Linked DNA regions of Homo sapiens. The protein of the gene in region 1 interacts with the protein of each later gene in a pairwise test. Each region holds a gene or a part of one and is shown on either strand. Other genes may lie near its edges.

The links.
Region 2: the proteins of LUM (region 1) and CFTR interact in a protein complementation assay, tested with the Homo sapiens proteins (one large-scale study listed by BioGRID and IntAct).
Region 3: the proteins of LUM (region 1) and GNAQ interact in a two-hybrid assay, tested with the Homo sapiens proteins (one large-scale study listed by BioGRID and IntAct).
Region 4: the proteins of LUM (region 1) and LMO3 interact in binary tests that used the Homo sapiens proteins (3 or more experiments, as listed by UniProt).
Region 5: the proteins of LUM (region 1) and YWHAG interact in binary tests that used the Homo sapiens proteins (3 or more experiments, as listed by UniProt).
Region 6: the proteins of LUM (region 1) and SETDB1 interact in binary tests that used the Homo sapiens proteins (3 or more experiments, as listed by UniProt).

The regions. Positions count from the first base shown.
Region 1 is NC_000012.12:91,101,746-91,105,755, forward strand, and holds the end of LUM (lumican precursor), read right to left. Parts: intron 2,575-4,010; coding exon 2,420-2,574; 3' UTR 884-2,419; downstream 1-883.
Region 2 is NC_000007.14:117,612,218-117,616,544, reverse strand, and holds part of CFTR (cystic fibrosis transmembrane conductance regulator), read right to left. Parts: intron 1,933-4,327; coding exon 1,832-1,932; intron 317-1,831; exon of another isoform or gene 205-316; intron 1-204. UniProt on the Homo sapiens protein: Epithelial ion channel that plays an important role in the regulation of epithelial ion and water transport and fluid homeostasis. Mediates the transport of chloride ions across the cell membrane.
Region 3 is NC_000009.12:78,021,434-78,025,760, reverse strand, and holds part of GNAQ (guanine nucleotide-binding protein G(q) subunit alpha), read left to right. Parts: intron 1-4,327.
Region 4 is NC_000012.12:16,551,018-16,554,989, forward strand, and holds part of LMO3 (LIM domain only protein 3), read right to left. Parts: intron 311-3,972; coding exon 205-310; 3' UTR 1-204.
Region 5 is NC_000007.14:76,352,492-76,355,991, forward strand, and holds part of YWHAG (14-3-3 protein gamma), read right to left. Parts: intron 1-3,500. UniProt on the Homo sapiens protein: Adapter protein implicated in the regulation of a large spectrum of both general and specialized signaling pathways. Binds to a large number of partners, usually by recognition of a phosphoserine or phosphothreonine motif.
Region 6 is NC_000001.11:150,932,348-150,936,674, reverse strand, and holds part of SETDB1 (histone-lysine N-methyltransferase SETDB1), read right to left. Parts: intron 1-4,327. UniProt on the Homo sapiens protein: Histone methyltransferase that specifically trimethylates 'Lys-9' of histone H3. H3 'Lys-9' trimethylation represents a specific tag for epigenetic transcriptional repression by recruiting HP1 (CBX1, CBX3 and/or CBX5) proteins to methylated histones.

The DNA.
Region 1 (4,010 bases):
TAGATAGATAGATACATAGATAGATAGATAGATGATAGATAGATATGCTGTGAAAAGCAGGCTACTTTCTATTCTGCCTCCCTAGAAAAGAGTACTTTTCTGCTTTTTAATTATTTGTGATTTCAGTAACTTAATCATAGTATCACACTAAGTCGGTGTTTTGAAAAATATGCAACACTGAGCACCGGTATAAGAATCACCCGTGGATGCGCTTTAAAAATGCAAAATCCTATGTTGCACAATTCATTACGTCTGTATATCTGGGGCATGTCTGGTAACCTGGATGTAGAAATACACCCTTACAGGCTGGTTATATACTTACCATTTTGAAAAACACTACCCTAAATAGGGTGAGGATGGAGAGATGAGGAGAAAGCTGATAAAAGTTTCACCAGATTTTCTTCCCTCAGCACCTCACTAGGGCTGCCCAGTGAGTGAAGGAGTAAGTGGGAATCTTCTCTTCTCCAGCTTTGCCCTGAAAAGATGAAGTCTTCCCTCTAAAAAGAGGAGTTGTTCCTAAACAGGGTATATTCCTTTCCCAGATGCTTCTACAACAAAGTGTCACTAAGTGCTTAACTTTGTCTTTGTCAACCAACATTAACTACAAAGGGAACTGCTGTTTTAAAAGTCATAGTTTTGCTTCTTAGGCATGAGAATAACATAGGACTTTGGATAGAGAGAAATCAAAGGCTTTTAAAGATGCAGACAGACTGTCTGCTGAGAAGATGTTTCCTCTAAGTAGTATAGAGACAAAGCTCATTTAATTCCATCACATTCTTTCTAAAAGAGAATTTATGGCACATTATCTACCCTCTATTTGAGAATAGGTTTCCAAGGCTTGATAGTGACTTTTGTAGACAGGGAAAAGAAAATTCATTTTCAATTCATCTACATTATAGTTTTATCGAGAAAAAGTAGATTTCAAGTTTAAACCAACAAATAAACTGAGGCTGCTATCACACTCTAAGGAATTTACCTTAATGTAGAAAACTCATGAAAATCAAAAATACACATTGTACCTAATGTAATATCCATCGCACATATCTGCCAGTCAACTCAGTCTCAATGATGATCCTCTGATGAAAGGCCGCTGTACCATAAGATAGAGTTCACTAAAAGTGGTGTGTTAAAACATTTTATGCCTTAGAGATACATTTTATTTGTACTAGACACATATTTGACTATATATACACTGGTATGGGATGAGCAGACCTTTGTCTGCATAACATTTGGCTCCACACATAGGTTTTATTGTTAACTAGGTAAAACAGAAGTTATTTTTATAAATTATATGCAGAGTATTTATCATTGTATAGAATTGTATATACTCATAGAAAGCTGAAAGCTGTTATTACTGGATTATGAACTCAAAACCTATGATCCAGACATATTGGCTTCAAGCTAAAATGATTTTTTAAATATCTATTTCAGAAAATTTTATATTCATTCATTTTTAATCCTGTGAGTTATCCACCATTTCTTGACAACCAAGGAGTGAGTGCTGAGATCACATAGCAGCTTCTTATCTAATAGAATACCATTGTATATGAACCAGTAAAAACACCAGGAATGGGAATAATGACAAATATCTAAGTAAGTTGTGAAATCTAAGTACCTATTATAGGTGTTTTTAAGAACTCTTTGTAAGTGAATGCTAGAAGTAGACAAATTATTTAGTGGAAAATCCTATGTTCACATCAGTAAAATATTGCAGGCCAGAGATATCTTTTGATTTCTAATCTATTGTTTTATGTATTTTATATACAAAGTACAGAAATTTCACAAGAAGTCAAACACAGTGATGCCATTTGCTATGTTTTATTTTGCTAGTAGCTTATTAAACATAACATGCAAATAATCAAAGAGAAACATACATGACTTAGAGTGAAAAATAATTCTAGAAAAGTTTCACTAGGTAAGTATGCAAATTCTTATTCTAAAAATACTTCTTTAAGTGCATGAAGCTTCATGTATTTTGCAATATTCTTGGCCTCAATATCTACCACCTATTTTTTAACCAGACAAATTTGAATGTATCAAGATAATTTGGTGCAAGAGAGTAACATCCATATGTATTTAATCCAAGCTTTGAGGAACATTAAGATTTAAGGATTATAAAACTTGGCTGATTTCCATGCAACCAGTAAAAGGTTTTGCACATCATTTGACAGTAGAAATAAAAAAACACTAAATTTACAAATAAAGCATTGAGTTTGATGTCTATTCGTGTATATGTGTGTGTTCTTGTGATGAAATAGGCCTGCCTTTCATCTTTTCTTTAAAAAAAATAAATGTTTACAAAACATTTCCCTCAGATTTTAAAATTCATGGAAGTAATAAACAGTAATAAAATATGGATACTATGAAAACTGACACACAGAAAAACATAACCATAAAATATTGTTCCAGGATACAGATATTAATTAAGAGTGACTTCGTTAGCAACACGTAGACATTCATACATATCCGGTGGAAGACTGGTTTCTGAGATGCGATTGCCATCCAAACGCAAATGCTTGATCTTGGAGTAGGATAATGGCCCCAGGATCTTGCAGAAGCTCTTTATGTCAAACTCTAAAAATTAAAGAATAGAAAACATTAATCATTTTTCAGTACACTGGCTCAAAACAATACAAAAAATTTATGTTTAATATATTATAAAATAGGACCTCTTCCCATTTAGAAAAGTCATAATATAGTATATGTTTGAATTTGCAACCATTAAAGGCATATTTCAGGCTACCAAAATGGCACAGTAACATTTAGTAAAGAGTAATCATGGTAGATCAAGATATTCAGTGGAATATTTTAAATAACAGAACTTATTTTATTACTAGAAGTTGTTTTTAAAAAGGCATTCAATAAGTGTGTCATATTATCTAACAACTTTTTTGAAATAGTATAACCTGAAGAAATATAAATGGATCCCATTGTTGTATGAACAATCTCAGTATAAGTACTCTTTGGTTTTACATCTAAAAATAAGAAGGGTTAACTAGATGATCTATAAAGAATTTTCTAGCAACCACATACCATGACCATGATAAAAATTCCAAGACAAAAACCAAATCATTCCAGCAATCACACACCATAGCAATGATCAAAATTCTAAGGCAAAAACCTAATCATGGCATGTCCACCATCTGAACTCATGTTTTTGTTTATTTGTTTATTTTTGTCCATGGTCAAAAAGCTGCCACAAATGAAACACTGACTTACTTTGTAATAGAAACCAAGAGTGTTACTGAATTGACTGACCTGTGTATACACAGAAACTATGTTTGCCTATGTCTATTTTAGATTAACATTTTCAAGTCCTTTATCTTGTTTTCATTTTCAAACTCTAGTTAACAAAGACTTCAGTGGAACCCCAAACACACATGCTTTTTAAAATAACTCATCAGTTAATTCCAGGGATTTTTCTATGGTACCAACATTTGAGAAAGTGAGGAAAAATGGAAAGAAGATGGGCATAGTCCCATCTTGGAATTCTACCTCTGCCACTTACCCAGGTGGGCAACACTGGAACACTTATCTGATCTTGTTAGAAATAACACATCTATCTTACCGTGTTGCATGAAGATTAAATTAAGTTGTGTAGAGCACTTCACACAATACTAGTACATAGTATGTCCTAAATAATGACTAATATCCTTTTGATTTTGCTGTCTTTCTAAATTACTCTACACTAGGAAGATCTCTGATTGGGCTAATGCTTAGAGTTGCAAGTTTGAAATAGAAAACAGTTTGTTTTGGCTATATATTCCCTAATATTAGAAAAAAACATTGAGGGGAACTTTCTGTATTAAGTGAATGTGAAATGTTGATATAGTTGATTATTATCTGGCAAAATAACCTAAACTGAGGTGATACATAAAAAGACAAGGAGAATACCTGACTAAATGTACAAAGATAAGGAAGAAAGAAAGGAAACTATTATGTTACCTTTTCAAATGACCACTATGTACTGGGCACTGTGGTTTCTATCTCAGCTTGGCACTGACAGGCCG
Region 2 (4,327 bases), on another chromosome or scaffold:
AGGCTACTATGTAAACCAAGAAAATTAATACAGCAAGGACAAAGGAATTGTACACACCCATGGTGAAAAGATATTTTTAGGTAAAGAAACATGTAAGTGCATGAGGAGCTTAAATGTAAAGTCAAAGTTGTAGAAAGTTGGGCAAAGAATTAAATAGATGTAAGCACAATATTTATTTAATATTCTCCTGCTGTTTCCCAACAGAAACATTTCTATACATTTATGAGACCCAACTCCAAAAGCATACTGGAATGGAATTAAAGACCGAACTACAGAAGCTAAAGAGAGCTGATCAAACTAAAAAAAAAAGTTAAAGGTAAAGAAACCAACTTTAGTATAAATCATGTTCCAATTAAATTACAGCTCAATGGGTTATGAAAATGCTTAAAGAAAATAAGAAGACACATGAACCAGAAGAGAGCATTAAAAGGGTTTTCTTTTTCCTGGAGATATTTTTTATAATGATGTTTGTTCTGACAGGAGTTGATCATACAAATTTTATAGCTGAATAAATGTGTGTGGTTTGGGAACATGAACACTGTCTCAGAGAACAAGGAAAGAAACTTAAGCAAAAAGTATAATTTTAAAAAGAGTATAATAATAGTGTTGCACAGTCATTCCTAACTTGGGTTTCTAAACCATCTACAAAAGCAGTGGTGAATGAATAATTTTAAATACAGTAGTACAAAAATACTTTAAAAATTCAATGATGAAGCTATCCAGACCAACCATATAGTCTGATTGAAAAATATGCATTTGATTTTTTAAACAAAAATGAGTAAATGTGCATCATTTCCTTTAATTTCTCAGTCCCGCTGCAATGGGATTTGTGCCCCTGATATGGTATTAGCACATAAGCATTACTATAATATTAATGGCTCTGCATTCTAGAAAACCAAAACAAGAGAAATAACACAACTAAAATGTGGTCTTTGTACACACTAATAAAGTATACAAATGTGTGGCAATATTTATCAAGCAGAAAGACAGAAGGCAATGATAAACACTTTAGGAATAAGAAAGGTGCTATCACTAAATAATGTGAAAAAAATTTAAATAATAGTATGAAAATGTTATGCTGCTAAATTTGAGAACCCAATATAAGGAAGGAGTTCTTAATCAAGATACCAAAAGCACAAAACATAAAGGAAAAGACAATAAATTGAACTTTATTAAACTTAAAAGCTTCTTTTCATCAAAAGACTCTATAAGCCAAGCCACTGACTGAGGGATTATGTTTGAAATGTATAGAGCTGATGATCAATCCATAATTCATAAATTCCTACAATTTAATTAAGGAAGAAAAAACTAGGTGACAAATGAGTAATCAACATGAATAAGAAATTAATGTAAGAGAACAGCAAAAGCCAATAATTATGTATGCAGCTTCCCTATATTTTTAGTAATCACTTCACATCTACCAGACACCAAGTGTTGTTGAAGATACATAGCTATGAGAATTCTTGTACTCTCTTGATGGGGATATATATCAGTACAACAGACTTGAGGACAATTTGGCACCACTCAGTTAAGCATGGGTGAATCCTATGACCCAGCAATACAACCCCTAGGTATTTCTCCTAGAAAATCCTGAATAAGGAAACAGGTGAAAGAATGCTCACTGCAGTATTAGATCTTCATAGTGGCTATCTATGAGAAGGAAAGAAGAGATAAGGATTTAATGACAGATACACAGTGACCCTCAATTTATCTGTAATGTTTTATTTCTTAAGCTCAATATACGGTATATAGTTCTTCCTCATGCTATTACTCATACTTTGTTACTTGTCTGAATTTTTTTCATAAAAGTTAAAAAGATGATAAGACTTACCAAGCTATCCACATCTATGCTGGAGTTTACAGCCCACTGCAATGTACTCATGATATTCATGGCTAAAGTCAGGATAATACCAACTCTTCCTTCTCCTTCTCCTATAGATGCACAAAAGACGTAAATGAACCTCATGTTATTTCTCTCTTCTGTGAACGACTTTATTCACACTTCTCCTAGGGCACATATCACATTAAATTTACATTTCAATTTTATGCTAATTTTAACAATTTTTAAATCTCAGTTCATCACAGCATCTACTAATAGAATAATGCTCTGCATATAGTAAGTATTCAACCAGGATTTTAAATCAAAGAGCGATTGAATATTAGGAAAGTGTTGCCCTTTTTAAAAAATGTTACTGGTATTGGAGGTGTTGTTGGTAATGGGTAGGTACCATATTTGTCTCTTCTACTATTATTCTATAAGTAATAACGGTAACATATATTAGAATGGGCAATGGGGAAAAGAGATCCTGTATCCAGATGAGCTGCTTTACAAAGAGACCAAAAGCAGGGGAAGAGTGTCCAAACAGCATCTGCAAGATGTTTAGGTGTGTTCTGTGCCTTTGCAAGGAGGACCTTTGCTAATTGCATGCTATTGGGAAGTAAGTGGACTTAGAATTTCACCGGACAGTCAGAAAACTAACAGTTCTGCCATTTGGAAAGAGAAAAGATTACCCTCTATGCAAAAAAAAAAAAAAAAAAAAAAAAAGATTACTGTACCTGGGAAGAACAACACTTAAGTGTTAAATTACAGTAATTTTTTTTTTAGGGCTAAAGAGGACAGCTAATTAAAATTCATGTGTTCAGTATTATGGCCATAGAAATTCTCTAAGAGGAATGTTCTTAAATTATTATAAAGTTAGACTATCAAGTCCCAATCAAGAGTTCTTACATCTGTAATGCATGATAAAATTGTCAAAAGATTCTACAATTGGGAGAAATAATTCATCTTATTATTAATTGAAATTTTTGTTTCTGCAATTCCTCTAACAGAAGGCATAATATACACAGCATATATCTGCATGTAGTATTAAATTATTTTCATATAGGCAAGATTTATCTAGACCCCAATATATTACTGTTCTGAAGGTTAAGCTGAGAAGATAAAATTTTAATAATAAGTCAGATAACATTTATTTAGTATTTACCATGGACCAGGCACTATACTAAGTGTTTTGGACAAATTATTACATTTACTATTCACCCCACACCTATGGAATAGGTAATATTATTGTGTCTATTTACACTTGAGGAAAATGAGGGGCTTAGATAGTTAATTAATGTTTGCAAGTTAACACAGCTGAAGACCAATTGAGCCAGGGATAATAATAGCTGGGTGGCCAACATCCACTCCGGCTGAGCATCTGATTTGATTGGTAAGTTCTGTACTATAATGATTGTTAAATGTTTTGATTATTGCCCCTAATAAATCAAGACTCAATCACACTCAACCATGTTATAGCATGTGTTATATTGGTTTGAATTAATTGTTAACAAATCTTCATTTATGTAATTCAGCCTTCTTTGATCTTATTTTCAAATAACTTAAAAGAATTTTTTAAAGTTGCTTAAAATTACAGTACTGATGAGGATTAGTACATTTGCCTGCCCATGTATATTCCTTTCATAGAGTCATTTCCCACTGCCCTAGCTGAGAGAACAACAAAGGTGGTGAACCCACTATCCTCATAGCAGCAGAGTAGACTGCAGTTGGACCCCTGAGCCAAAAGGAAGCTGTTTTCTGTTCTCTCCAGGACTTTGAGTTTGTACAGAGGAACTCTCCTGTAAATTCAGGAGGCCAGAATGGAGACACTACATAAAGTCAATGTGGCATAGCCCTGGTAGACCAGAAAAACCAGTCTTCAGAGAGAGAAAGGAATGAAGCAACCACAAAAAGGAATGGACCCAGGACAGATATAGACTCAAGAAGAAGAGCTGCAGCTGACTCTCTTGTGCCTGTTGCAGCTTCTTTAAGAGTCGAATGGCACCACCTTCTCGGTGTTCCATGAGGCCTTTCTGTAACTCCAGCAAATGCCTGCTTTCGGTTTGAGTAGAATTCTGTTCCTACAATCAAATGATCCTACAGATTTGGCATTGATTTGGCATTTGCTCTGCCAGTATTCACTGTCACATATAAGAAGTTATTTCAACACTTATCATAAATACTCAGAAATTCAAATTCTTAAATTAGAGAAACAAATTTACCTACATAGATTTTTATTTTACTTATTATGAAATACTTTGTTTTTCACTAAAGATCCTAAAATCAATCCAGAACATTTGTATTTGAAAAACATGGCACTTTCTTTTCTTCTTTTTCTTTTGAAAAATGTGACACTGTCTTTCTTTTCTGTGACAGTTTTTCTTTGTGTAAAACTCACAATTAGATAACAAATTTTATCTAGTAGAGATTTAAAAAAAACAAAACTTACCGACAAGAGGAACTCTGTGTGTGTGTGTGTGTGTGTGTGTGTAAATGCGGATGTTTCAT
Region 3 (4,327 bases), on another chromosome or scaffold:
AATGTTGATTGGATGTTGTAGAGGGAAAATAGGGAGCTCAAAGGGTACATCTTGGAAGAGACAGAAGCCATTTTATAAGGAGGTTAGGATTGCTTTCTCCCTCAGAAGGTGGAGGGAATCTGTTTCCTCTGTATTGGGTTGAGGAAAATACAAGTTTGTGAAGCAACAAATTTTAAAGTCAAATTTCCTGGTTGGAACGGGAGGCAGTCACATTTTTCAAAGGAAAACTTTTGTAATGCCTTTTAAGTTATGTTAAGATCTCTGCAGACTTAATCCTAGTGAAGTGTGAAATAGCAATAGAAGGTAAAATGTGCGATTGTTGGTAATTAAATCTGTGGCAATAACTGACTACAGTAAACCGTGAACGTTTACTCTTGTTCTGCCGAATGGAGTAACATTAAAGAAAGAGCTGCTCTCAGACCCAAACACTATTTTGTGTGAATAGCTGTTACTGATAAAATTATAGGAAGTTGTTCAACAATCACCTTTGATTTGTTACATTACCGATATGTAAAAAATAAAATTATAGGAAGTTGTTCAACAATCACCTTTGATTTGTTACATTACCGATATGTAAAAATCTGTCTGATTTCTCATCTAACATGTAGTAAAAGGACCTAGGCATACTGATGAAATGAGTTAACACATCCTAGGTGGTCATGAATTTGGGCTTTAAAAACAAAAATAAATGTCCATGTTGCAGTGCCGAGAATCCCAAATTGGATTAACTATACAGCTCTGTTGTTAACCTTTATACATAGCCATAATCAGTGCAGAATATTTTGTTAAAAGCCTTTATGGTTAATTTTAAAGAACAAAATTAGTATTACTTAAAAATCAAATTATGAAGATATCTCAAATCCATTTTTTCAACATATACTTGTCAGTTATTAAAAAATATTTCCTCTAATTTTTTTTTTTAACCAGGCATAACTTAAGAAGGAACAGTTTCATGCAGAATGCTAGTCAAATGAACAAATATGAGCACCTACTATGTGCCAAATAATGTGCTGTGTGAGATGCTCCTTATGTCTTATTTGCCGACAGGAAAGACTAAGCACTTTGCATAGTTCTTGTATTGTAGCTGATGTCCTCGTACTGACATGCCCTTCTGACTTTATCCTTCCTGGCTTTGGCTTTTCTATTGGGTTTTCATACACAGAAAGAGACAAAATAATCTGAAGGCCATTGTAGGAGCTTCCTGGGGATCACAGGACTGGGGAATGCGGATGATTTTACCTTGTGTTTCTAAGTGGATTGGAAGCTCCGTGAAGGCAAAGATCCTTGCTCTTGTATCTTTATCGCAATTCCTGATGATTCTATTATCAGTAACTAGGGATGTGTGTGGAAAGCTGGATTCCAAAAAGAATGGAGGGTAATCGGAAGAAGTGAATTTAAATTCCCTGCTTTCTTCTAATAGGCATCATCCATATGTCCTCCATTTTCCACTCCTCTTTGCTGTTTTGTGGGCCACCGGGCGCACAGTGAAAGGAATTCCGTTTTAAAGATGGAACAGTTTTTGCCTTCTTGCCTTCCTCTCATTTGTTCTCTTGGGACAATGTTTCGGTTGAACATTCTCATATTGTTTCCAGTTAAAAGCCAATAGCAATTGATCCAGCTGTTCCAATGGAAAGCTGTTACACACACAAGTTCTTTGAAATCTGACAATCTGTGCACCTTTATTACAGGATTAATCATGGATTGTGAACAATATGTCTGCTTTAGAAATAAAATAGTTGTTTTCAAGTAATGGATTGTGGTGCAGTTGGGAACGAAAATGTTACTAATGCCATTATAGTGTGTGTGTGTGTATATACACACATATACAATATGTGTGTGTTTATACACACATAATTGACCCACAAATTAAAGAAAAAGAGATCTAGCCAGACTTTTTGGCTCTGTTACCGGAAGCGAACAGTGATGTTTAGACACATAGTTACATATATTTCTAGGAGATAGCCTCATTTTTTTTCCCTTTGGAAAACTAAAATCATGAATTAATTGTGCTTTCCAAGAATTTTTTTTTTAATCAGCATCACTTGCTAAAAAATAGAAATAGAATTTTTTTGTTTCTTTTTTATGTTGAAAAATTTTTTTCATTTTTATTGTTTCTTTCCTACATTTTCTTTTACTGTAGGGGCAACAGGGTGATTGGTGAGATCTTCTACCACCATGTATTTACTGGTAACTGCAGGCATCTAGTTGCTTCTAAAGAGGAATGCTTCTGTGATTTACCCAGTCCCTTTTCAGTCTACCAGTGATTTCTGTAGCCCCCCTACCCATCCCTTTCATGTGAATACCACCCACCCATTTAATTCCTCATCACATCTTTCTTAAACAGATGCTAAAGAGGTTCCTCAGATTCTCTGACTTGCACATTTGCATACGATTTAGAGAACTTCCAAGTTGGTGCTTCTGTGAGACATCATGTGGCTGTGAGCTGGTGAGAGGGGAAGTTGGGTGCTTTAATACATTCAAAGGAAGGAATTTGTGAGTGTGTGTTTAGGCAATGATTAACTTTCTTTTGCAATACTTACTCTGGTCCGTAAAGCAAAAATAAATTGTTACTGAACACAATGTAAAATCCTCCTTCCTTTTCCAGAGGGCAGGGACTTGAGATTGGTTCATGATTACCAGCAGAGAGTTAGTGAGCCAGTGCTGGATAATCTATCACGGACCAGTGGGTTTCAGAATCGGATGCAGTGCGTATGCTGGAAGGGGAGAAGGTGCTGTAGGCATGTGTAGGCATCTTCCTCACTTAATGATTTGAAAACCCTCTTCTCAGTGACTTGCAAGCCTTAACATCTTTTTCTGATTGTATTTCCATACAGATAGTTAAGGGTGATGGCAATAGCAGTGGCCTTTACTTTTGTTATACCCAATCAGCCTGAGTACATTTTTGTGGTGGGTTTGTTTTGGTATTTTCTTGCCATGTGAATTGATATTTAGGACCTGCGCTTTGCAGAGCTCCTTCATTATAGTATGCGTTCTTTCTGCAGATGGCAAATGCAATTTTCCTCTTGTCCTAGAGAGATGACCCATTTCCTGTGACTTGTTCTAATAATACAAGATGACTTTAATTTTTGTTCAGTTTGCCTTTAAAAGATTGCCAGGTTTAACTCTCTTGTCTCTGTAACTCTTGTGATATATTTTTGAGCATTGGTAAGACATGTAATAATTTAAAAACAATGGCAGACTAATTTTGTGAAAGTTTTTTATTTTTTATTTTTGGCTAAATAAGCACCTTTTATGGCTGTGCATTTTGGATTCGTTACATATATCTTTTCTAAAATCTGTGACTGAAAGTGGGGTGAAGTATTCCTGCCCTGCTTACTGAATCTTTTTTTCCCACATAACTAACCTCAGGGTATTTTGATCATTTGCTTTTTCTATAAAAACCTGTAGAATGAGGAGATTGCAGCAGATGATCTCTAAGGACCATTTGAACTTTGAATTTTTTTCTCCTTCCCCTTTGCAGCTTTGGCGTCTCGGCCACTTTCTGCCCAAACTCACCCCTGGATGAAGGGTCTAAGCTTGCTGCTGTCTCCAGCAGTGATGGGCTCTACTAGGAGGCATTGCCAGGTCTGGTGGGCTCCTTCGGGTTGGCCTGGCTCTTCTCTTTGACCTCTGTAATAACTCTGAGTGCCCTGCAGTGGGGAGCACTTTGAGGGGGGCCTGTGAATGAAGCCTTAGCAAGTCTGTCCAGAGCTCCCCTGGTGCCGCCTGGCATGCTGCTGATAGTTTGCAATGTCTTCACAAGAAATGGTATCAGAAACCTCCTGTCATATCAGCATGGGTCTCTTGCTTCCTGCAGGAAGGGCGATATCCTGGGAGGCACAGAGGTGGAGCCCGAGAGACGCAGTGTTCCAGCGCTGCTCGGCTCAGGACTGGGTCTTTTCTTCCGTATCCTCAAGCAGCTTCCTTTGACTTACTACTTCTTTTTGTTTGTTTTTTCTTCATTGGGCTTTAAGCGTTGCTTCTCTTTAGTGTATGTGTGACTGAAGCCAAACACAACATTGCTTTCCCTTTGCCTGCAAATAATCTTGTTGCCCAAGCCCATCTCTGCCATTTTCAGTGACAGCTGGCTGGCCAATGAGCCTGAGCACTGGGAATGCCCAGCAGGGCACATCTAGGGGGCTGCTTTATATTTGGAGCTAGCAGGTCTCTTTTCTAGGGCTTTCCAGGAAAGATTTAGAATTAAACATTGGATGGATTTTGTGTGTTCATTTCTTTTTCCATCACTGTGCCTTTATTTTCTTGGGGCTTTCATTAAAAGCAGAAAAACAGATAATGGTAGAAACATCTATAGCATGCATACAAAGAA
Region 4 (3,972 bases), about 75 Mb from region 1:
TTTCTTTAATAATAAACATTCAACTCTGAACTGGGGCAATTTCACTACATACAGATGCAGTCCGCCTTTTATTCCATATAACCATCCTGCCTTCCTATATCTACGCTATTCAGTAGGTTCCTGTGTCAATTCTTATGTACATGTGGAGCAAAAAAGATAAAAGAATGTAGTGCTTTGTATTCTTAATGGGGTGATGTTGATAGATCAGCGAACCTGGGGTGCATAACCTTCTTTCATTAAACCTTCCTCGTAGTCCGTCTGGCAAAGGATCATGTTATTCTTTAGGAAAAATTTGTCTCCAACACAAAATCTGAAAATATTTTAAACAATAAAATGTGGTTAAGACCATTTCACTTGGATCTAGAAATTTGAAGATTTATTTTCCTATTAATAGTTTCGCATGGTAATTCCCTGAATCTGAAAACCTGGCTTAGACAGTTGTCTTCATTATCAGAATTAGACCATTTACCATTTACTTCATTTAATGAAATGTTGCACACATTTGAAATCTTGCCTTTGCATGCAAAAATTCTAAGGATATTGAGATAAACACTTTGGGCACCAAAGATGACTTGCTTTTTTTTTTTTTAAACCACACTGGAAAGAAAAAAAATAAAAAGAACTGATCTGTATTTACACCCATTAAAATAAAAGAAAGAATGATAATAATGTTTCACTGCAGTAATTATGGATGATTTCATCTCTGGCCATTTAGGCACTTAATAAAAAAGTAAAAGGCATTAAAATGAATCAAACAATTAGAAAATAGCCTATTTTAAAGCTTCCCATTTAAAGCTTTCTTTTACTCTGTTATTAAAATGTGATTAAATGTTAGTAATCTAGAAGTGATCATTCTGAAATGAAAGTTGCTCTAGCATCAGATTCTGATGCTGAGCCATTTTCCTTTGTTTGTGGCAAGTTCACCAACATGAAATAGTAGATGTCATTTCTTAGAGCACTTCCAATTCAACCAAAGGGAGTAACCTAAATGAACTACTTAATATTGATGTGATAAACTAAACTAGTTTCCAATAGCTAATTATGCATTTTATTTCATAAAGCATTGTTTAATGTGCAAGACTGCAATGTTTTTAATAAGTGTTCTTTCTGTATGATTTCCCCACGGTGACACTTTGGACACAATTAAGGTCAGAAATAAATGTTTTTTCTGTTTCTGGTACATTTAACAATAAAGTAACTCTGGGGAGATCTGTATATATATTTAATTGTAACAATTTAACCTTCAAATAGTGGTGTCTGGTAGAGTTGACCCAGTAAAACTACTTGTAATTATACAAGTTGACCTCTATGACCTTTGATAGTAGTCTCTCTTTATCAGATAGTCAATTTCAAATGATGTTCCAGCAGAAATCTTAGTGGATAGATTAAATTGTGTAGTGAAAGCCACCCTTTAATGTTTTGTGAAGTTGAAGGTTTAAATGAGGAGCAGTTGGACTGATTTACATTTGCAAAGATTGGAATGCTAGACAAACAGTGAACCTATTTTTTTCCAACTGGGTAGCTTTGGAAATTTATCCTTATACTAGCTAAGTAGATAGAGAGGAAAATAGTGTAATAAAAAAAGTAGACTGAAAAGAATTAGCTTTCCTCTTAAAGGAAAATTGGTCTATTTGTGGAATTTACTTTTTTTCCCCAGGATTACTGCCTGCTGATGATGTTGATTGAAAGCACAGACTATGCACTGATCTTGAAATCCTAGGGTTGTTTGTGGTCAAAGCTACTGGATACAATGAACATTCAAGTTTGGGGCTTTAAGTATATTTTCTTTGTATTAGTTGTAACCTGTATACTTTAAATGTTGCACTTCAATAATGGTGTTTGTGCAAGCCAGTTTGATATCCTTATCAAATGAAAAGTGTCTGAAAGGCAGAGAGGTATACTGCAACCAGTAGGGTCCAAACTCTACCTTCCCACTTATGATAATTGAAAATAAAACTTTGGTTTTTAATACCTGTGACATCAGTCGACTTTGTAGGCTTGTGGCAAGGAGTAGAAATGAAATATCTAAAATCTTACCTCAATGTTTGAAACATAGGTAAAATAGCCACCTTTTTATGCTTACCATGTGCTAAATGCTAAGCATGTATGTACATGATCACATTTATTCCCTACATCCAACCTAGAAAGTAAGCATTGTCATGGCTTTTTACAGAAGAAAAACCTAAGACTCCGTGCCAGAATTTCAAAGCCCTGCCCAAGATTCTGTAGTTAAAACGTTTATAGTAAAGGAAGAAAAATAACCCAGGCCTTTTTGGATTCAAGACTCAAGCTTTTACCTGAGGGCAGTAAAGCATGCAGGCTACAAGAATAATGTGAAGATTAAATGGTTATACAGGGTGTAACTGTGTTTTTTGTATTACTATTATTTCTTTTGCATAACTTTAAAAAAGTCTGCCTACTATTCAATTAAGTGGTATATATAGAGCAACAGAGGCAGAGCGAGAGAGAGACAGAACTTTTCTAAAATATTCCTACCTGACATATTTTATTACTAATATGTTATCAACTGGATAAAGTGCATTTTATATGCATTTCAATTTATACTTAAAGGTCAAGATGAAACGAACATGGATGAGGGATGTCACACTTGCACATATGACTCAAACAAAACAGCCTTGAAAGCTGTGGTTAAGAGCAGATTACGACTGGTATGCAATTAAGGTTGACATCCTCTTTAAAAAATGCTTCATATATAAATATAAAGAAATTTCAGAGACAGCAATACAGATAGTATGTATTTAACAAATTAATCTGTAACTGTGATTTTGTAAGAAATGCTAATTTCCAGTGTGATTTAACCAACTTCTTATGAGATTCAGCATTTGCAGGAAAAAAAAAAAAAAGCATTATGAAAGGAGTGATAGCCAGAGGATACTGTAAGTATATTAACAGGCTACAATTACTAAAAATAAACATAATCTTTCTTGTAATCTGACCCTAATTACTTGTAGTATGCTCAGTTCAATTAATTTTACCCTCATTTAAAAAAATTATGGTAAGGAATAAGAAGATGCCCAATTAGATTATTAAACCATCTAATTCTGATGTTTTGGAATTAATATGAGATGTAATTTCTAGATATTTTTGAGTGATTTAGCTGACTTCATATAGTCTTAGAGACTTGAGAAGTATATGAAACAAGTGTAAATAGTAAATCATCCTTATAAAATATAGTGCTTAGTTTTAAGCAGGTTATCAAAAGCCTATGCTAAGAAGCCTCCACTGGTAACATCCCTTTTAAGAAATAAAAATGTTAGCCTAGCCATCTTCTTTCCCTAATGTTAGTGACTGACAATTATGATTAATTTCTATCTTACAACACTTAGCTAGGGAGCTCCAATCCATATTTCTAGTGTCTATACTTTCCTATTCCACATCTTCAGTTAACTGTAAGTTAGAGATTTCTATACTATACTGTTTTCAATAAGAAGTCCGGGTTGTGTACTCATTCCTCCACTATACACCTGTGAACAAATTTACTGTCTTTCCCACTGACAGTCCGGTTGTCATTATACATCTCACTGCTAACAACCCTTAGTGTATCAAATGACACTACCCACACCCCAAATCTTGCTATACATTATTCAAAGTTTACCTTACTTTAAGTCCACTATATCTATTCACATTTATATGCTCTTAGTCAGAAAATAAAATACCTCTCTTGAAATGGGCCTGACTCCGGAGAGGGAGACCAGATTCGCTCCGCCTCCCGGGTTCCCGCCATTCTCCTGCCTCAGCCTCCCCAGTAGCTCTGACTACAGGCGCCCGCCACCTCGACCGGCTCATTTTTTTGTATTTTTTAGTAGAGACGGGGTTTCACCGTGTTAGCCAGGATGGTCTCGATCTCCCAACCTCGTGATCCGCCCGCCCGCCTCGGCCTCCCAAAGTGCTGGGATTACCGGCATTAGCCACCGCGCCCGGCCAGGTTTAAATCTTGAGTCTACCACTTTC
Region 5 (3,500 bases), on another chromosome or scaffold:
TGGGTCCCACTCACCAAAATGGGCTTTCTCTCTCCAAAGACAGGTACCCTTCCAAAGGTTAAGAAGCCCAAGAGTTTATTTGGAATAATTTTATTGTTTTAATGTTATGTTAAAAATCTAAATTATGTAAGAACACTCTCTTTCCTATTCACAACCAAAACTTTTTTTTTTTTTTAGAGACAGAGTCTCACACTGTCACCCAGGCTGGAGTGCAGTGGTATGACCTCAGCTCACTGCAACCTCTGCCTCTTGGGTTCAAGTGATTCTCCTACCTCAGCCTCTCTAGTAGCTGGGATTACAGGCATGCGCCACCATGCCCAGCTAATTTTTGTTATTTTTAGTACAGATGGGATTTCACCATGTTGAGCAGGCTGGTCTTGAACTCCTGACCTCAAGTGATCAACCCACCTCGACCTCCCAAAGTGCTGGGATTACAGGCGTGAGCCACTACATCCGGCCCATAACCAAAACTTAATGCCATGCAGCACATATTAGTAGTATTCAACTCAGGTAAAGAAAAGTCTATTTCTGTAGGACACACACTTAACAAGTGAAATGCTGGGAGCAATTTAACTAAGACTTCACCAGTTCTTTAAACAGAAAGAAAAGACTCATGCACATGGTCTTTTAAGATTTACAATTTTTATTTTTTCTACAAAATCATGGTAGCAAACCAATTATTTATAACTATTTACCTTAAAATTAAAGCTTTCTTTTGGGAATTTTTTTTCTTTTTTTCAAGATGGAGTCTTGCTCTGTCACCCAGGCTGGAGTGCAGTGGTGCAATCTCAACTCCCTGCAACCTCCACCTCCCAGGTTCAAGTAATTCTCCGGCCTCAGCCTCCCAAGTAGCTAGGATTACAGGTGCATGCCACCATGCCCAGCTAATTTTTTGTATTTTTAGTAGAGACAAGTTTCACCATGTTGGTCAGGCTGGTCTCCAACTCCTGACCTCATGGTCCACCTGCCTCAGCCTCCCAAAGTGCTGGGATTACAGGCGTGAGCCACCGTGCCTGACCCAGGGAATTTTTTAAATCAGTTTTCGTGTAACTAATTTTCTACCACTCAAATTCATAAATTCATTTAGCAAAATATCAAAATTTTCAAGATTTCTACAAATGACAATTTTAAGTAAAATAATATGTTTTGGTAGTTAATCAAAATGATAGCTGACACCTAAAATGGAATTTGGGGAAGATACAGAAAAATAATTCTGAGAGGAGAGGCCATAAGGCAGCTGGTATTGGTAGCCTTTGTAGAAAGGCAACATTTAGCTGCATTATAATTATAGACCGGGCTGGGTGTGGTGGCTCACACCTGTAATCCCAGTACTTTGGGAGGCCAAGATGGGCAGACTGCTTGAGTCCAGGAGCTCAAGACCAGCCTGGACAACATGGCAACACCCCGTTCCTACAAAAAACGGTACAAAAAAATAGCCAGGTGTGGTAGCATGCTCCTGTAGTCCCAACTACTTGGGTGGCTGGGGCTGGAGGGTCGCTTTAGCCTGTGAGGTGGAGGCTGCAGTGAGCCATGCTCCAGCCTGGGTGACAGAGTGAGACCTTGCCTCAAAAAAAAAAAAAACAAAAAACAAGCAATCAAACGCACACATAATTATAGACTGGAATATCTGGTAAAACACTAAGTAACTTTCAAAAGAAGGCAAAGAGAAGATAACGTTTTATATCATTTAAAAGTAGTATTTCCCTTTGACTACCGAGCATAGAAAGTGGTCCTTGAGGCTGGGCACGGTGGCTCACGCCTGTAATCCCAGCACTTTGGGAGGCTGAGGTGGGCAGATCACCTGAAGTCAGGAGTTCGAGCTCAGCCTGGCCAACATGGTGAAACCCTGTCTCTATCAAAACTACAAAAATTCACTGGGCGTGGTGGTGGGTGCCTGTAATCCCAGCTACTTGGGAGGCTGAGGCAGGAGAATCACTTGAACCTGGGAGGCAGAGGTTGCGGTGAGCCGAGATACCACACCACTGCCCACTGCACTCCAGCCTGGGTGACAGAGCAAGACTCCGTCTCAAAAAAATTAAAATAAAATACAATAAAATAAAATAAGGTTAGGACTGCTGATATTGGGAATGGGCAAAGAAGGGAAAAGTAACTACTTTTCCCATCCAGCTCCTGACAGCCACAATGTACTGAATGTCTTGTGCTGGCGTCCCATCAGTTAAGAGCCTCATGCTGCAGGAGCTCCCCAGTCTCAACCCTGCATCCTACTCATTAGGAAACCACTACCACACAGGCGGCAAATCACTGATAATAAAGCCAGCCTTAGGGCTGAAAACGAGTCACTAGAACACCAGCAAAATTTCCATAATCCCCAAAGAGTTAACGATTTGCTCAGATTTCAAGTAAATTGTTCTTATTTATTTGGGTGAACATTATACAGTGTTCAAGTTCCATAACTTTTTAAGTGGAAATACAGTACAAACGTAGCTAAAGCTAATTCCCTTTTTTCAGTTCAGACGCTTGGAAATGAAGACAAAGGGATAGACAATTATCGCTGGCTGTGAGCTGTTGTGGGCACTCCATTATCGACACATTCCTGAATAGGTGCTGAATTCCAGCCAGCTGTAGTCCAGACCGGCATCACTTTTTAAAAATAACCACTTTCTCTCTTCTTCAACATAGGTGATGGCTGCACAACACGGAATGTACCCAATGCCACTCAATTGCACTTGAAATCTGATGTGACTATGTGACAGTTATGTTACGCAACTTTTACCTCGATAAAAACACATCGTTTTCTCCACTCTTTTCAATAATTTAAAGATTGGCTTAATAAATAAGGCTTCCCTGAGTACAAGAGATGAAATCCTACTCTTAGGTTTGCAGTTAATCCAGGACTGCAATGAGGATGAACATTTAGCGCCATGTTGAATCTCAGTAGAATTCAAAAAACACATAGATTTCCAAAATAATCAGAAAAAGCACTTAATATCTGCTTCAGTTACTGGGAAGGCTAACACATGAAAGGCAAGCTGTATGATCTGTATTCTTTCCACGCCCAAGAAGAGAACAATTCAAGCCACATGACTTAGAATAATGGTTGGCAGAACTCCACCTCTGAAGAGTCTACAGAGGTACCATTACTCCATTAGTGATAATAGCTATTGATCTCCTGGAAGAGCCTGGGGGGGAGGGGGAATGGAATATTTAAGATAGAAAGAATTTGAAAGTCTATTGATCCCACTAGGAATATTTAGAAAAATTATGATAGCCTTTTGCCACCTTTGCCCTCCCACCCCTCATTGAGTTAAACTGCTTAACTCAGTAACTTCAACAAAATTAGTAACCCTGAACCTTTTCTCCCCAAGGCAAGTACCAGTAGCCTATTTAAAATATTAACTTCTCAAGAGACTAGTAAAAGTCAAAGGACAAGACAGTATTGTCTAATACGTAGGATACATCTAGGTGTTCACTCTCCTTCAATACAAGACTAAACATCTGTCTTAAAAGACCTAACATTCCTCTTTCCTTCTTTTCAAAAT
Region 6 (4,327 bases), on another chromosome or scaffold:
TTCTATATCCTAAGAACTAGTGACTCTCTTACAGTATATACACTAAAAAGACTCCTGCACATGTGCATCAGGAGACATGTACAAGAATATTTGCAGTAGTGTTATCTGTAATCTCAAAAAATGTAAATCAATGTCCACAATCAGGAAAACTGATAAACTGTGGCATATTCATACAATGGAATACCATGCTGCAAAAAGCAAATAAGCTAATCATCATGCATCAACACAATGTTGAAGAAGTCAAAGCCAAGGGAGACGTCAGAACTAAATGTAACTCTGAATGCATTCGCCTCACTAGCTAAACTATTCCAAAAAATAGAAATAAAAAAGTCAATACTTGGAAGCCAAGCTAAAAAATTAAAAGTTAAAATAAAAAAACTGAACAGAGGCCTACAGGGTGGCTCACGCCTGTAATCCCAGCACTTTGGGAGGCCGAGACGGGCAGATTACGAGGTCAGGAGATCGAGACCATCCTGGCTAACATGGTGAAACCCTGTCTCTACTAAAAAAATAGAAAAAAATTAGCCAGGCATGGTGGCGGGCACCTGTAGTCCCAGCTACTCGGGAGGCTGAGGCAGGAGAATGGTGTGAAACCGGGAAGTGGAGCTTGCAGTGAGCCGAGATTGCGCCATTGCACTCCAGCCTGGGCGACAGAGCGAGACTCCGTCTCAAAAAAAAGAAAAGAATAACTAGGATATGGAACTCTCAGGAAAATAAATTAAAACTCAGAGTTGCTAGATTATCTAAAAGTCAATATTCAACAAAAAGATAAGAGACATGCAAAGAAACATGAAAGTGTGACCTACACTCAAGACAAAAAACCCTGTCAATAAAACTGACTCTCAGTGATCCCAGATACTGGATTTATAAATATGCTCAAAGAACGATAGGAAATTAAGTTAAAAGGTTAAATGAAAATATACTAATACTTAATCAACAAGAGAATCTCAAGAGAAACTGAAACTATGAAATAAGGAACCAAATAGAAATTCCAGAGTTGAAAATGCAAAAACTGAAATGAAATACATATTAGAGGGGCTAAGTGGCAGAGTCACAACAGGAGTCAATGAACTAGAATATATAGATACCCATATAGAGAAATTATCCAATCCAAAGCACAGAGAGAAAATTGAAGAAAAATGAACAAAGCTTCAGAGACTTGTGAAAAGATGAATGTCAAGCATTCCACCATATATGTAATGGAAATCCCAGAAAGCAGGGAGAGACAAAAGGGAACAGAAAAAAAAAACCATGAAGAAATAACAGATGAAATACTTCCAAATTTGGTGAAAAACTTGAATCTACATACCCAAGAAGTTAAATGGACCTCAAGTAGGATTAAGAAAGAACTTGGATACATCCCAGTCAAACTAACACCAGAAGACAAAAAGAAAACCTTAAAACCAGCAAGACAAAACTGACTCATATACATGATACAAAAATAATTTCCTCTGACTTTCCATCAAAAATAATAGAGGCCAGAGGGCACAGGGATGGCGTATTTGAAGTACTGAAAGAAAACTCTGTCAATCAAGAATTCTATATCCCAGGTAGGGCCGGGCACAGTGGCTCACGCCTGTAATCCCAGTACTTTGGGAGGCCAAGGCGTGTGGATCACCTGAGGCCAGGAGTTTGAGACCAGCCTGAACTACATGACGAAACCCTGTCTCTACTAAAAAGACAAAATTAGCCGGGCGTGGTGGTGCACACCTGTAGTCCCAACTACTTGGGAGGCTGAGGCAGGAGAATTGCTTGAACCTGGAAGGTGGAGGATGCAGTGAGCTGAGATCTCACCACTGCACTCCAGCCTGGGCAACAAGAATAAAGCTCTGTCACAAAAAAAAAAAAAAATTCTATATCCTGGGTAAACGAAGATTGAGGGAATCCACTGTCAGCAGAACTGTACTGCAAGAAATATTAAAGGAAACCGTCTGGCTGGAAAAACATGACACTGGATGATAACTCAGATCCACAGGAAGGAATGAAGAGCAACAGAAGTGATAAATATCTGGGTAAATACATATTTTTCTTTTCTTCCCTTACCTTCTTTAAACATGAGACTGCTTAAAGCAGTAATTATAACACTAGATTATTGGCTTTAAACATGTAGCTATAATATATTTGACAATAGTATCACACAGGAAGAGAGTGAAAGTAGAAGTATGCTGGTGCAAAGTGGCTGTGTATATATATATATTTTTTGAGATGGAGTCTCGCTCTGTCGCCCAGGCTGGAGTGCAGCGGTGCGATCTTGGCTCACTGCAAGCTCCGCCTCCCAGGTTCACGCCATTCTCCTGCCTCAGCCTCCCAAGTAGCTGGGACTACAGGTGCCCGCCACTACGCCCAGCTAATTTTTTTGTATTTTTAGTAGAGACGGGGTTTCACCGTGTTAGCCGGGATGGTTTCGATCTCCTGACCTCGTGATCTGCCCGTCTCGGCCTCCCAAAGTGCTGGGATTACAGGCGTCAGCCACCGCGCCCAGCCAAAATGGCTGTATTTTTACCAGAATTAAGTCAGTATTAATTTGTAATAGATTATGATTAGGTACAGATGCAACCCCTTTTATGAAAGCTAAAAAAAAGAAAAATCAGGGGCCGGGTGTGGTGGCTCACTCCTGTAATCCTAGCACTTTGGGAAGCCGAAGCAGGTGGATCACCTGAGGTTGGGAGCTTGAGATCAATCTGACCAACATGGAGAAACCCTGTCTCTACTAAAAATACAAAATTAGCCAGGCATGGTGGTGCATGCCTGTAATCCCAGCTACTTAGGAGGCTGAGGCAGGAGAATCGCTTGAACCCAAGAGGCGGAGGTTGCAGTGAGCAGAGATCCTGCCATTGCACTCCAGCCTAGACAACAAGAGCGAAAACTCCATCTCAAAAAAAAAAAAAAAAAAAAGAAAAAGAAAAAGAAAAAGAAAAAGAAAAAGAAAAATCAGAAGAATGACAGTGGTTTTCTGAAATGTTTGTTTGACTTTAAGAAGGCAACAAAGAAGAAATAGGGCTAGGCACAGTGGCTCACGCCTGTAATTCTAGCACTTTGAGAGGCTTAGGTGGACAGATCACCTAAGGTCAGAAGTTTAAGACAAGACTGGCCAACACAGAGAAATCCTGTCTCTACTAAAAGTACAAAAATTAGCTGGGTGTGATGGCGCGTGCCTGTGGTCCCAGCTACTCAGGAAGCTGAGACAGGAGAATTGCTTGAACCCAGGAGGCAAAGGTTGCAGTGAGCAGAAGTTGCAGTGAGATCATGCCACTGCACTTCAGCCAGGGCAATGGAGCAAGACTGTCTCAAAAAAAAAAAAAAAAAGACAAAATAGGCCAGGCATGGTAGCTAAGGCCTATAATCCCAGCACCTTGGGAGGCCAAGGCAGGAGGATTGCCTGAGCTCAGGAGTTCGAGACCAGCCTGGGCAACATAGTGAGACCTTATCTCTACTACAAAAAAAAAAGTTAGCTGGGCGTGGCGGCATGTACTTTTAGTTCCAGCTACTCAGGAGGCTGACGTGGGAGGATCACTTGAGCCCAGGAGGTTGAGGCTGCAGTGAACTATGATCATGCTATCACACTCCAGCCTGGGGAACAGAGTGAGACCTTGTCAATCAATCAATTCATTCATTCATTCATTCATTCAAAAAGACTAAAATTATACAAAGTATATTCTCTGAACACAATAAAATTAATTAAAAATTAACAACAGAAAGATATCAAAAAAACCCCAAATATTTAGAAATCAAACAACCACAAGGAAAATTAAAAATGATGCCAAGTTTAATGAAGCTGAAAACACAACATAAAAAAAGTATGATATCCTGAGAGTGACACTGTATGGAAAAAAATTTATGAGATGCAGCAAAGCAATGCTTACGGGGAAATAAATAGCTTTAGAGCTTATATTAGAAAGGAAGAAAGGTCTAAAATCAATCCTGTAAGCTTCCACTTTGAGAGGCTAGAAAAAGAAGAACAAATCAAACCCAGTAAGTAAAAGGAAGAAAATAAACATCACACTGGAAATATATTTAATGTGATATCCTGGATTAGATCATGGAACAGAAAAAGTCCAGAAGCTGAATAAAGCCTGAAGTTTATATAAAAGTAATATACCAGTGTTTGCTTCTTAGTTTTGACATATGTACTAGATGAGGGATATATAGGAACTCTATTACTTTTTCAATTTTTCTATAAATCTAAAATTATTCCAAAATAAAAGATTTTAAAAATCCACAAAGAAAAGTCCAAGCCTAAATGGCCTCAGCACTGAATTTATCAAACTTTTTAGGAAGAAATATCATTCCATACAAACTCAGAGGAGGGAACACTTCTCAACTCATT